4 linked regions of the Homo sapiens genome follow. The protein of the gene in region 4 interacts with the protein of the main gene of each other region in a pairwise test. Each region holds a gene or a part of one and is shown on either strand. Other genes may lie near its edges.

What was found.
Region 1: the proteins of FAM118B (region 4) and ZNF235 interact in a two-hybrid assay, tested with the Homo sapiens proteins (one large-scale study listed by BioGRID and IntAct).
Region 2: the proteins of FAM118B (region 4) and CTSB interact in a two-hybrid assay, tested with the Homo sapiens proteins (one large-scale study listed by BioGRID and IntAct).
Region 3: the proteins of FAM118B (region 4) and SEMA5B interact in a two-hybrid assay, tested with the Homo sapiens proteins (one large-scale study listed by BioGRID and IntAct).

Annotation. Positions count from the first base shown.
Region 1 is NC_000019.10:44,291,526-44,295,025, forward strand, and holds part of ZNF235 (zinc finger protein 235), read right to left. Parts: intron 1-3,500. UniProt on the Homo sapiens protein: May be involved in transcriptional regulation.
Region 2 is NC_000008.11:11,851,088-11,854,587, reverse strand, and holds part of CTSB (cathepsin B isoform 1 preproprotein), read left to right. Parts: intron 1-1,108; 5' UTR 1,109-1,133; coding exon 1,134-1,259; intron 1,260-1,892; coding exon 1,893-1,978; intron 1,979-3,500. UniProt on the Homo sapiens protein: Thiol protease which is believed to participate in intracellular degradation and turnover of proteins. Cleaves matrix extracellular phosphoglycoprotein MEPE. Involved in the solubilization of cross-linked TG/thyroglobulin in the thyroid follicle lumen.
Region 3 is NC_000003.12:122,919,764-122,923,263, forward strand, and holds part of SEMA5B (semaphorin-5B), read right to left. Parts: intron 2,685-3,500; coding exon 2,477-2,684; intron 2,360-2,476; coding exon 2,152-2,359; intron 1-2,151. UniProt on the Homo sapiens protein: May act as a positive axonal guidance cue.
Region 4 is NC_000011.10:126,253,282-126,256,781, forward strand, and holds part of FAM118B (protein FAM118B), read left to right. Parts: intron 1-977; coding exon of another isoform or gene 978-1,023; coding exon 1,024-1,152; intron 1,153-1,869; exon of another isoform or gene 1,870-3,285; coding exon 3,286-3,500. UniProt on the Homo sapiens protein: May play a role in Cajal bodies formation.

The DNA of each region.
Region 1 (3,500 bases), on a different chromosome or scaffold from region 4:
ATGATAAAAACAGAAAGAAGATACAAATTACAAATATCAGGATGAGAGGTGACATCACTATAGATCCTGTATATATTATTAAAAGGATAAGGGACTTATGAACTTTATGGCAATAAATGCAACAATGCAGATGAACTGGACAAATTTCTTGAAAGACACAAAATAAGTTTACTTGAGAACATACAGATAATCTGAATAGCCCTTATCTACCAAAGAAACAGAATTCATACTTACAAATATTTCCACAAACAAAAGTTCAGGCTTATAGGGCTTCATCCATGAATTTTACCAAACATATAAGGAAGAAACAATACCAATGCTAGACAAACTCTTCCAGAAAAATGAAAAGGTGTAAATACTTCTCAACACATTTTAGGAAGCCAGCATTATTCTAACACCAAAATAAGACAATGACATTCCAAGAAAAGGCAACTACAGACTAACATTCCTAATGAACATATTTATAAAATTCTTAACAAAATGTGATCAAATCAAATCTAACAATGTATAAAAAGGATAAATCAAGACAAAGTAGTGATTATCTCAAGAATGCAAGGCTGATTTAGTATTCTAAAATTAGACCTAAATGCTTCCCTCAGAAAATCAGGAACAAGGCAAGTATATCCACTCTCACAACCTTTATTCAACATTACTGAAGTTCTAGTCAGTGCAGTAAGACAGGAAAAAAACAACATAAAAGAAATAAAGATCATAAAGGAAAAAATGAGCCAGATAAATAATTTGAAATACTGATTTTAAGGAAGCTCAATGAGATACAAAAGAAATTTGAAAAGCAATACAAAAAATCAATTCAGGATATGAATGAGAAATTTACCAAAGAGAAAGAGATAGGTATCTTTTTTTTAAAAAGCCAAACAAATAAAAACTTCTGGAAATGAAAAAATCATTGAAGAAATTACAAAATACAGTTGAAAGCTTTTACAATAGACTAGACAAGCAGAAGAAAGCATCTCGGTACTTCAAGACAGGTCTTTTGAATTAATCTAGTCAGACGAAAGTAAAGAAAAAAGAATAAGGAAGAAAAAACAAAGCTTCTAAGAAGTATGAAACTACATAAAGCAACCAAACCTATGAATCATAGGTATTCCTGAGGGAGAAGAAAAAGTAAAAAGTTTGGAAACCTAGTTAAGGAAATAATTGAGGAAAACTTCCTTAATCTAGCAAGAGCTTTAGATATCCAGATAAAAGAGATCTAATGAACTCCACGAAAATACATTGCAAGATGGAACTCACCACAGCATACAGTCATCAGACTAAGGTTTATATGAAGGATAAAATCCTAAAATCAGCAAGAGAAAAGTGTTTAGTCACCTATAAAGGAAGCTCCATCACACAATTCAACTTGTAGAAACCTTACAAGCCAGAAGAGATTGGATTCTATTTTCAAGTTGCTTCAAAAAACAAAAAAATTTGTATCCTACTAGAATAAGCTCTATAAATGAAGGAAAAATAAGCCTTCCCCAAATAAACAAATACTTAGGGAGTTTGTCACCACTAGACCAGGTCTACAGGGAATGCTCAAGTGAGTTCTAACCATGAAAACAAAAGGTTGATACTTGCCATGATAAAAGACACAAAAGTATAAAACTTGCAGGCCTTATAAAATAATTACACAAAGAAAGAAGATAAGTCAAATGGCAACATAACTCATCTTACCGATAAAGACACAGACTGAAGGTAAAGCGGTAGAAAAAGATATTCCATGCAAATGGAAACCAGAAACGAGCAGGAGTAGCTATTTTTATATCAGATAAAAAAAGACTTTAAATCAACAGCAGTAAAAAAAGACAAAGTCATTACATAATGATAAAGTGATCAATAAACAAATAAGATAACAATCCTAAGTATATACACACCAAACATCAGGGCACCCAAATTCATAAAACAAATATTATTAGACCTAAAAAAATACACAGCAATACAATAACAGTGGGGGACCTCAACACCCCACAGACACCACTAGATAGACTGAGACAGAAAATCAACAAAGAAACACTGGACTTAAATTAAATTTTAGGTCAAATGGAGCTAACAGACATTTACAGAACATTCTATCCAACATCAGAATATACACTCTTCTGATTAGTGCATGGAGCATTCTCCAAGATAGAACATATGTTAGGTCACAAAAAAAGTCTCAATACATTTTTAAAAACCAAAATCACACCAAGTATCTTCTCACACCTCAGCAGAATAAAACTAGAAATCAATTCCAAGAAGAACTCTAGAAACTATACAAATACATGAAAATTAAACATGATCCTAAACAATCTTTGGGTTAATGACAAGACAAATTTTAAAATTTCTTGAAATGAATGAAAACGAAAATACAATATACCAAAACCTCTGGGATAAAGCAAAAGCAGTGCTAAGAGGGAAGTTTATAGTGTTAAATGTCTACACTAAAAAAAAAAAAAGATAAAAAATTAACAACCTGTGTCTCACCTCCAGGAACTAGAAAAACAGGAAAAATCCAAACCCAAAGTCAGCAGAAGAAAGATATAACAAAGACCACAGCAGAACTAAATAAAATAGAGAACCATGGAACCATACAAAGGATCAATGAAACGAAAAGCTCGTTTTTATCTCTGAAAAGATAAAATTGATAGACTGCCAGTAAGACTAGCCAAGAAAAGAGAAGATCCAAATAAACATAATCAGAAATGAATGAGACATTACAACTAATACCATAGAAATAAAAAACATGATCAGACACTCTTATGAACAATACACTTGAAAACTAGAAATTCTAGAGAAAATGAATTCCTGGAAACATACAACCTCCCAAGATTGAGCCCATCTGGCTCCCAAGATTGAGCCAGGAGGAAACAGAAATCCTAAACAGACCAGTAATGAGCAGTGAGATTGAATCAGCAATGCAAAACCTCCCAAGAACAAAAAAGCCCAGGACCAGACAAAGGTACACTGGAATTCCACAAAAGGTACAAAGAACTGGTACCAATTCTACTAAAACTCTTTCAAAAAATCTAAGAGGAGAGAATCCTCCCTAACTCATTCTAGAAAGCCACTCTTGCTCTGATACCAAAGTCAGATAAAGACACAACAAAAAAAGAAAACTACAGAGCAATATCCCTGATGAATGTAGATGCAAAAATCCTCCAAAAACAAACACAAATCCCCCCACAAAACCCCCCAAACCAAATCTAATAGCACATCAAAAAGATAAGCCACCATGATCGAGTGGGTTTTATTCCAAGGATGCGAGAATGGTTCAACATACACAAACCAATAAATGTGATTCAGCCTATAAACAGAATTAAAAACAAAAACCACATGATCATCTCAACAGATATATAAAAACCATTTGACAAAATTCAGCATCCTCTCATGATAAAAACCTTTGACAAACTAGGCACAGAAGAAACATATTTCAAAATAATAAAAGCCATATATGACAACCCATAGGTAACATACTGAATGGGGAAAAGCTGAAAGCATTCCCCCTAAGAACTGGAATA
Region 2 (3,500 bases), on a different chromosome or scaffold from region 4:
GAGGTGGAGGCTGCAGTGAGCCAAGATTGTGCCACTGTACCCCAGACTGGGTGACATGGCCCACAGACCAAGACCCTGTCTCAAAAAAAAAAAAAAAGCTTTTTTCCAGAGCCATCTTGCTGTCCTCATATATTTATTCTCCTAGATGAATTGTTGCTTAAGCAACAATGAAGTTTAAATTGTTCTTCAGATAGAACCCCTAGGTGCCAGGCAGTTTGTTAAGCACTGACACCGCAGTCCTGTGACTTTCATGACGACCTGTGACCTGTGGGAGGTAGAACACCTCACCCACCCGTGGGAGCCCCTGGAGTGACTGACAGGAACCCCTGCCTCACCCAGCTCCCCGCGCCGCGGCTCTCCCCAGCCCTGGATGCAGGCGCCCAGGAGACATGTATTGCTTTTGTTGAGCTGCTCACTTAGGAGGGTGACTCAGAGTTCAAGCTGGAAAGCACTGGCTTGTGACTCATGAGCCAGTGCAAGATCAAACGGCTGGGGCATCGAGGTGAGAGTTTTCCTTCTCAGAAGCCTCATCTCCGCAGCCGGAAGCAGAGCCCTTGGCTGACTGGAAAAACCAGAGAGGCCCCGGGAGTGGGTGGATGGCCAGCCCAGCCCCACCTCTCAGCCTCAACCTCCACCAGCCCACACCGAGCTTGTTTGTCTGTGTCCTGTCGAAACTAGGACTCCTGGATTGTAACTTTTCTTACATTTCCCTGTCCCCTGGGTCCTCCACTTAGGGTGTAATCACACAGACAGGCTCTTAACTGTTTCATATCACTCACTTGGGAAAGTGTCTCAAGCTGTTCTACAAATCCATGCAAAGGCCGTTTAAAAATAGCAGCGAAGGCCCTGGACTCGGTCTCGTCCAGCACAGCCCCTTGGCTCTCTCTCTGGGCTCTGGCCGCCTGGCCCCCGGGGACCCACACGAGGTCATGGCGTGCTTCGGGCAGGGGGGCGGGGATCCCATAGACACCTCAGCTCCTTAAGAGTTCTCCGCCTGGGCCAGGACGAGCATGGGGGTCCCCACTGATGCCCGAGACGGTGCCCCTGTGTGTGTGAGCCCTCGACCCACATAACAGAGAGGTGTCCTGATGCCCTCTGTCCTCTCCAGGTGGATCTAGGATCCGGCTTCCAACATGTGGCAGCTCTGGGCCTCCCTCTGCTGCCTGCTGGTGTTGGCCAATGCCCGGAGCAGGCCCTCTTTCCATCCCCTGTCGGATGAGCTGGTCAACTATGTCAACAAACGGAATACCACGTGGCAGGTAGGCTGTGGGGCTGCGTCCTATGTATGTCCCCTCCCAGGTCGGTCTGTGCACACTGACTCCAGGAATGGGAAGCCAGCCCTCACTGTGGCCCACAGAACATTGTCCTGGACTGTTGAAAAATGGCCCTGACCCTGAGTCATGTCGGCTCTGGACCACGCCTCCCTCCTTTGTCCCATACCCCACGTGTGTGCATGAGTGTGTGTGCATGTGTATGAATATATGGTTGTGTGCACGTGGAGGTGTGTGGGGGAGTAAGTGAGCTTCGGAAGTGTTCAAAACCAGCTAGCCCCTGTGACGCCCGCCGTGGCACAGTGGCAGTTTATCAGTCCCGCCCCTGATTCCCTTTGTCTCTGCCCAGCCCTGACCCTCGGACTGAGAACCAAGAATGAGGAGTGAGCCATGTTGAGGGCTGGAGAGGGTCTCTGATTGTCAGCAAATGGGAGCAGATCAGGGGAGACACCCACTCTGCCCGTGTGTCACTCTGGGCTGTTCCCCAGTGCCCCCCAACCCTTGGGCCCTTGAATTGGGTAGGGTCTCTGGTTTTCCCTGGGTTGGGCTTCGTGTGTGGGCAGCGTGCCCATCCACCGCCATCCCGGGAGACCCTTCAGTCAGTGGGTGACTCTCTTCCAGGCCGGGCACAACTTCTACAACGTGGACATGAGCTACTTGAAGAGGCTATGTGGTACCTTCCTGGGTGGGCCCAAGCCACCCCAGAGGTGAGTGCCTGCTCCTCTGCACCGCTGTAATGTGAGTGGCAGGCGTTGGTTTGGGGCAGTGGGAAGTGGGAGAGTGAAGGCCTCTCTGGCGTCCGCAGGGCTCATGCTGCCCAGGGCTGCCGACACCGCTTGAGGTACAGTACTTGTTTCTTTTCATTTTTATATTACTTTCTCTTTTTATTTTATTTTTTCCTTCTCAAGTTATTAGTAGAGAAGATGCTGGTGCTTTTTTTTGGTTTTTGAGAGAGTCTCACTCTGTCACCCAGGCTGGAGTGCAGTGGCACGATCTTGGCTCACTGCAAACTCTGTCTCCCGGGTTCAAGCGATTCTCATGCCACAGCCTCCTGAGTAGCTGGGGCCACAGGCTTGCACCACCGTGCACGGCTAATATTTGTATTTTTAGTAGAGACTGGGTTTCGCCATACTGGCCAGGCTCGTCTCGAACTCTTGGCCTCAGCAAGTCATCTGCCCAACTCGGCATCCCAGAGTGCTGGGATTACCGGCATGAGCCACCCCCAGTGTTTTCTATTGTGCTTCTCCAAGGTGTCTCAGCCGCAGATGTGACAGACAAGGTCTGGGTCCCCACTATGTGGGCAGACTCAATCTTGAGTAATTTAAGGGAAATCTAAGAAAAGCCAGATGAGGCCAAGTATGGTGGCTCACGCCTGTAATCCCAGCACTTTGGGATGCCAAGGCAAGCGGATCACCTGAGGTCAGGAGTTCGAGACCAGTCTGACCAACATGATGAAACCCCGTCTCTACTAAAAATAAAAAACTTTGCCAGGCGTGGTGGCGGGCGCCTGTAATCCCAGCTACTCGGGAGGCTGAGGCTAGAGAATCGCATGAACCCGGGAGGCAGAGGTTGCGGTGAGCTGAGATGATGCCACTTCCCACGTGAGGATGGGGTAGTTAAGTTGCACGACACTGCCTTCTGCACAATGGGGATGATATGAGAAATGATGAGAGGATCCTGGGCAGAGGTTGAGGCAGGAGAGCAGGGCAAGAAACACTATCTGGACTGAATAAACTTATTTAAAAATGAGTTTATAATTTGTGGATAAATTCATCTTAAAAAATCCATTACATAAGCCTAGAAAGAAGCGTACAATATCGCAAGTCAGGCCAGGTGTGGTGGATCATGCCTGTAATCCCAGCACTTTGGGAGGCCAAGGCAGGCAGATCATTTGAAGCCAGGAGTTTAAGACCAGCCTGGCCAACATGGTGAAACCCTGTCTTTACTAAAAATACAAAAATTAGCCGGGTGTGGTGGTGCATGCCTGTAATCCCAGCTACTCAGGAGGCTGAGGCACGAGAATCGATTGAACTCAGGAGGCAGAGGTTGCAGTGGGCAGAGATCTCGCCACTGCACTCCAGCCTGGATGACACAGTGAAATTCTGTCCACTCCCACCCTCCCGTCCCACCCAAAAAAAAAATCAAAAGGTGCATTGAGCAACAGAATTTCCTTTTGTTTTATGAAATTACCAAGGACACCTGTCTGCAGCCTTCTTCGGCATGTCTTGT
Region 3 (3,500 bases), on a different chromosome or scaffold from region 4:
CTATAGTTTTTTAGCAGGGTTTTCACTGTACACATCAAGGGCTCCTATCCCAAAGTCAGGAAACAAAATAGGATGAAAGCACCAAACTCCAAACTGACCTCTTTGTGCCTTGCTCCAGGGCAAGAGTGCAATGGGCACACTACACAAGCTCCCCAGCCCCTCTCTGCAGAATGTGAGCGCAGGCCTCCCTAGCACACCCCACTGGAGCTGAACATCCCAGCCCCTTTCCTTCCTCCCGTCCACTGCAGGCCCCGTTCCTTCAGATCTGGCTTAGAGCCATACTAGGCCACCTGGACCATCCACCTGATACATGACAGTGCTGTTCACCACTGTCTGATTGATCTTTTCACACAGCCCGTGACTGCACTCCACTGCTCTAGGACCACTCCAGTGCCCACAGCCACAGGATTCAAGTCGAAGTCCTCCTTTGGCCTTCTCAGTTGGCCTCAATCCAGTTTCCAGTCCCATTCCCCATGTTTCTCCTGCGCCAAACTCCTCTCACGCCAAAGAGTCAGTCAACTGAAGGATCAGTCATGTGTGGAAGGCCACTTGGTGCCTTGGGCTGGGTGGGACTCCCTGGTGGAGTATAAAAAATACTGAGACACTGGGTTTGCCTTTAAGGATTTACAACCTCTTGGAGAACAAGCCATATGTGAAAGCCTGTGATTCATTGCCAAGCTGTACTGACTATATTCAATGAGACTCCAGAGGGCCTAGGAGGCTGGAGGGCTCCTAAATGCATTTGGGGAGATAAGAAGTAATAAAGATACCAGCTACCTCTTGTGATTTGCTAGACTGGGCACTTTATGAATACTAGTCCCAATCCTTACAACTCTGCCTGTTAAACATCATTTGCTCCATCAAATGTCTCCCCGTTTTCCAGATGAGAGAGCCGAAGCTCAAAAAGATTTAGTTGTTCAAGATCATACGGTTAGTAGATGATGGAGTTGAGATGGAGCCCCAGGTGTGTCTGGTTCCACCATGTGAGTCCTTCCCCCCACACCCGACCATCTCTCCCCACATGTCTGATATAGGCCAAGGTTCTCTTCCCACCCAGATATCTGGAGATCTGAGGGAAATCAGTGTTCGGGGCCTATTTCTCTTGCCTTCTCTCACACCAACAGTCTTACAAAGTGTCCTGAACATGGTATGTCTTAGTAAGTGTGTGGTGTCTCGCTGATGGAGACTTGTGTTGGGGCTGAAGGGAGCTGGAGTGTCTGCCCTGAGACTCCCCCTCCTTGGCTGCCTCACCAAGACCATCCAGCTCCTCTTGGCCCCACAGGCCTCTGCCCAGCTCCGAGCACACCCCACTGGAGCTGAAGAACAGCCCTGTATCATGGATACCATTTGTCTTCCCAATCTTGAGGACAGATGGCACAGCCAGGACTCTCGGTTGCAAAGGCCACAGAAGCTCGCATGGCTGTGGTGGTGCCAGCTTCTGAGTATCATGAAAATGAGGCCATGCAGCCTGGGAGAGCCTCGGGTGGTAGGAGTCTGGGCTACATTTCCATTTGGCTTTGGAATAGGCTTTGGTTTCCCCCTTAAACACTGATGCCACAGTTGTCAAATCTGTGAGTCCGCTTGAAGCTACGGCATGAAGAACCAAGTTCAGAAGCAGTGGGAAGCCAGGGCAACTCCTCCACGTGGCGCCTCACCTCTGCCCTACCTGCAGCAGCCCTCTCTACCTCTTCTAAGGAAGGAAGCAAGAGGAGCAAAAACGTGGGGCTGACTCAAAGCATCATCTCCATCTGTCCCCACATCTGGGCAATAAGTGCTGTGGCTTCAAAGATAAAGAACTCTCTGTACAGAAAGGACTGAGAATAAATCAAGTGGGCTAGAGATGGTTGACTGGCCCTAGCTATGTGTTTGACAACAGGGATAACAACAGCCACCCACCAAAATTTGCTAAGCACACACTTCCTCCAGGTACTGATAAGTGCTTTATGGAGATTATCTCAATTAACCCTCACAAAAACCCTGCAAGATGTTTTACGAGGAGAGAACCAAGGTTCAGCGAGGTGGAGTGACTTGTCCTAAGGCACACTAGTGGAGACTGCAGGGACCGACCCCAGGTCTCCCGGGTCCAAAGCCCCGCCTCTTAAGCGCCTCCTCCGCAGTGGAGGCCTCGGGAGCCGCCCCGTCCCGGCTTACCCCTGGCTGCGGTAGGCGGCGCACCTCTCCAGTGGGACCCGCAGGACGCCGTCTCTCAGCCCCACGAAGAGCGCGCGGGCGCTGTGCAGGATGCGCAGGCTGCGCAGGGGCTCGCGGCGCCCGGGGGGCAGCACGTGCAGCTCCTCCAGGTAGCAGCCGTGGAGGCTGCGGCTCGCCGTGGACAGCGCCTTCAGGATGGTGCCCGACTCTGGAGGAGAGGGGGAGCCAGACCAAGGTGGCCTTGAAGGCCCCGGAAGCTTGCAGCCCCGCGCCGTCCCTCAACCCACCCCCGACCTGCAGTCCAGGTTGGACCGGGCCGGCTCACCGGTGCCAATGTAGAGTACATGGTAGAGCGTGTCTTTAGCCTGCACCAGGTCCACCACGAGGTGTGAGAAGCGCACGCTGTCCTGGGTGACACAGGGCTCGGGTGTCACCGGCTGCACGGCCTCGCTCATCAGGAAGAGGCGCTGCGCGTCCTGCAGGCTGCGCTCCGTCAGGTTCTCGTTGGGACCGGTCTCAGGCAGGGTGCCACACTGCCGCGGGGAGCCAGGTCACGCGCGCCCCGGCCACCAGGGCTGCCGCCATCCCCCGCCGGCTCCCTCCTCCTGGCAACCCAGGTGGCCACAGCAGCGGACGCTGATTCTCCAGCACCCCCCACCCCTAGCATCCCTGCTGGGCGTCCTGCACCCTTTCCAGGGTGGGATGCCTCTTCTTTGGGAACTAAGAACAGGAGACTGGGGAGATGGGGAAGGAGGATCCTGCCAGGGTTGGGGAAGAGGAGGGAGGAGAGCAAAGGGGACTGGACTATCTAAAAACGGATACTTTGAGTGTGGACGAGTGTCCGGTGATTTTTATGCTGTTGCTGCAGGCTCCCCTCTCCTACCTTGGGCCAAGCCTGCTGTCCCTCTCCTGTGTCCTTGCCAGCTCAAAGTTCTTATGATTTCTAAACCAAAGCTGGAAGCCTTCTGAGCATCTCCTACATTCCAGGCATATGAACCTTCTCACATATCTGTGAGGTATTATCTCTTACAGTATTATCCCTAGTTCCAGATAAGGAAAAGGAGACTGAAGGAGGTTGGATGACTTTTTTGTCCAAGGTCACACAGAGATAGGCTAGATGGTAGGACTGCAAAGCTTGAGGTCTTTCCCAGCTCCATCCCACCCCCTGGGTGGGAAGCTGGGCGAACACGAAAGTCAACCATCAGCAGCCTCCTCTGCCCCCTGGTTCTTTCCCTTTCTCCATGGGGATGGGGGATACTCACACTACCCACGGCTGGGCCCTGACCACACCCTGACCACTCCTAGCACTGACCACTTCCAGGAATTAGTACCCATGTTGAACACACTGC
Region 4 (3,500 bases):
GGTAGTCAGAATGGGGCCTAGTAACATTCAAATTCTAAATCTCGGTGCCTCTTGACTACTTTCCTGATTCATAGCCTATTTCTCCAAAATGTGATAAGAATAAATGTATGCTGTCTCCAGTCCTTGGGAAAATGGAGCCATGGAATCAGGTGGCTATTGCATTCGCTGTTGTCTAAATGATTGTTCTTCGCTGGCAGCCTTTTAGGTTCCTCAGAGGTGACTGAAGTGATTTTTCTATCACTTATCTATTGCTGTACAAGTAATGGCCGTGAAACTTTGTGGCTTGTAACAACAAATATCTTATCTGCCCATGATAAAGTATATTAACAATTTGAACTGGGCTCAGTGACTCAGCCAGGCATTTTTTCTGCTGATTTTTGCACCCTCTTCACATACCTGCAGACATCTGATGGCCGCACCAGGGCTGAGTGATATAAGGGGACCATACTTCCCTGCAAGCAATTGGCCAGGCCATATATGTCCCAGCAGGCTAGCCCAGGCTTCTTCACTTTCTTCGCATGGCAGCTGGATTCCAAAAGTAACACAAGAGAAGTAAGACTTCTTGTGCCAACACTTTTCAAGCTTCTGCTTGTGTGTGTTTGCTAGTATCCCATTGGCTAAAAGCAAGCCATGTGGTTAGCCTGGAGTCACTCCGAAGAGGGGCCACACAAGGGCCTGGATACAGAGGCTTGATTTCTTGGGGCGATCACTGAAGCAGTTGTCCATAGCTCTCATGCATGCCACCAGTGCAAAGGGTCCCTGTTGTTTCTGCAAATTATGACAAATTGTGATTTTTGATGCTTACTTTCAAAGAGAAATCACCAAATTTGTTGCCATCATTCTTGACAGTCATTCCTGAAGTGGAAACTTAGACCACATCAGGTTTTGCATTCTTGTCCTATATCATGAAGCTAGAGAGTTTATGTCAGAAGTCTAGTCCTCAAAACAGCCTCTTGCCCATTGTGACCTTTAAACAGGTGCTCAGCCCTGCCAAGCTGGTTGGGCTATATGTGTGTTGTGCAGGTCCTCGAGTGGGCTCAGGAGAAGCGTAAGCTGAGCGTGTTGCATATTCACGGAGTCTACACCAACCCTAGTGGCATTGTCCTTCATCCGGCTGGATATCAGAACGTGCTCAGGAACACTGAAGTCATGGTGAGTGGGGCTGATCTTGCTGGTCTCAGGAACTCCTTCCTGGGAAATCTCTCTAAATATGCCATAGATCTTAAAGGGGAACATCTTCTTTTCATTAAGTGAAAACGGAAGGTCAGGGGCTAGGAGCAGTGGCTCATGCCTATAATCCCAACACTTTGGGAGGCCAAGGGGAGAGGATCACCTGAGGCCAGGAGTTCGAGACCAGCCTGGGCAACATAGCGAGACTCTTGTCTTTACAAAAATAAAATTAGCTAGGCATCATGGTGCATGCTGTCCCAGCTACTTGGGAGGCTGAGGCAGGAAGATTAGTTGAGACTAGGAATATAAGGCTGTAGTGAGCTGTGTCTAGAGCCACTGCACTCCAGCTTGGGTGACAGAGCAAGGCCCTATCTCTAAAAAAAGAAAGAAACTGGAAAGTCAGACGTTCTTCCTGTGCTTCTTAACTTATGGGTGTGCATGCTGTCTAGGAAATGTAGAATTTCTCTTAAGGTGTCAAACCCTATGATCTTTGTTTGTACTTAATTGACAACCAGCAGATGGCATGTCATCATTGGCATCATCTTCACATACAAAGGATACATTAGTACCCTTTATCATCATTTGGTTTATTAATAGCCCTCTCTGTGTCAGAAATAATTGAGGCAGCTTCTTAACAAACCAACCACTACTAGAGAATACATTCTAAAGAGACTTTGTATAAATGGCAATGGGCTTATATTGAATTAACCACATTTATTCACACTTACTCTTTGTGAAAAGCTTATTGATCTTTTGGGATGCACATTTTCGACTTGTTCAGATAAACATGTTCAAACCAGAAGTATTCGCTGCCCCCAGCTCTAAGAATCTTGTTTGCTGTTTTCAGGACTGGGTCATATAGATTATAGCATCTTTTAATAATGAGGCAAAAGACCGAGAAAATGTATTGTCTAAAGCACAAGGGACTTTTTTTTCTTTTTACCCATTCTTTCCCAACATCTGCCATAACTGCATCCATCTCTGACATTGAGTGATCCCTTAGGCAGTCATTTCTGTGTTTTTGTGTGTGTATATGTATACACACACACACACATACTGATGTTCTAAGTATCAAACGCCTTTCCTTGAGCAAATCCGATGATGGAATTATCTTCTCTGGTGATTCACAGTTCAGTTTGTGAGACAAAGGCAAATATGGTCCAGAAATGGAAGGATTAAGATATATGAAGACCTACTCTTTGCACAATGACCTCTGGGCACATAAATCTAAAAAAGTACGCCTGTAATCCCAACACTTTGGGAGGCTGAGGCAGGCAGATCACATGAGGTCAGGAGTTCCAGACCAGCCTGGCCAACATGGTGAAACCCTGTCTCTACTAAAAATAGGAAAATTAGCTGGGCGTGCTGGCAGGTGCCTGTAATGCCAGCTACTTGGGAGTCTGAGGCAGGAGAATCGCTTGAACCTGGGAGGCAGAGGAGGTTGCAGTGAGCCAAGACCATGCCACTGCACTCCAGCCTAGGTGGCAGAGCAAGACTCTGTCTCAAAAATAAAATAAAAATAAAAAAGTAAACTACTGGCCAAGTGCAGTGGCTCACGCCTGTAATCCCAGCACTTTGGGAGGCCAAGGTGGGTGGATCACTCGAGGTCGGGAGTACCAGACCAGCCTGGCCAACATGGCAAAACCCCGTCTCTACTAAACATTCAAAAATTAGCTGGGTGTGGTGGTGCACACTTGTAATATACTCGGGAGGCTGAGGCATGAGAGTCACTTGAACCAGGGTGGTGGAGGTTGCAGTAAGCCGAGGTCACACCACTACACTCTAGCCCAGGTGAAAGAGTGAGACTCCGTCTCAAAAAATATATAAAGCATAAAAAATAAAGAAGTAAACTACTGCACCAGTACACTGACACCAGCTCTATGAAACGCTGATTAGAGAGCCTACAGAAGAATGGCAGGTAAAGATAAAATTTTAGACCAATCATCAAGTTACAGCAATAAGCAAGAGATCACACTCCTTGATGGGACATACCAACCCACTTAAGTCTTGCTTAATTGGTCATCACAGTCTGCTCAACGTAGCATGACCTTCTTGTTTCAGACTTGCCTTGAGTGTGTCTTCACAATGTCAATATGTTGTATCTTTTCCTTCCAGAGAGAAATTCAGAAACTCTACGAAAACAAGTCATTTCTTTTCCTGGGCTGTGGCTGGACTGTGGATGACACCACTTTCCAGGCCCTTTTCTTGGAGGCTGTCAAGCATAAATCTGACCTAGAACATTTCATGCTGGTTCGGAGAGGAGACGTAGATGAGTTCAAAAAGCTTCGAGAAAACATGCTGGACAAGGGGATTAAAGTCATCTCCTATGG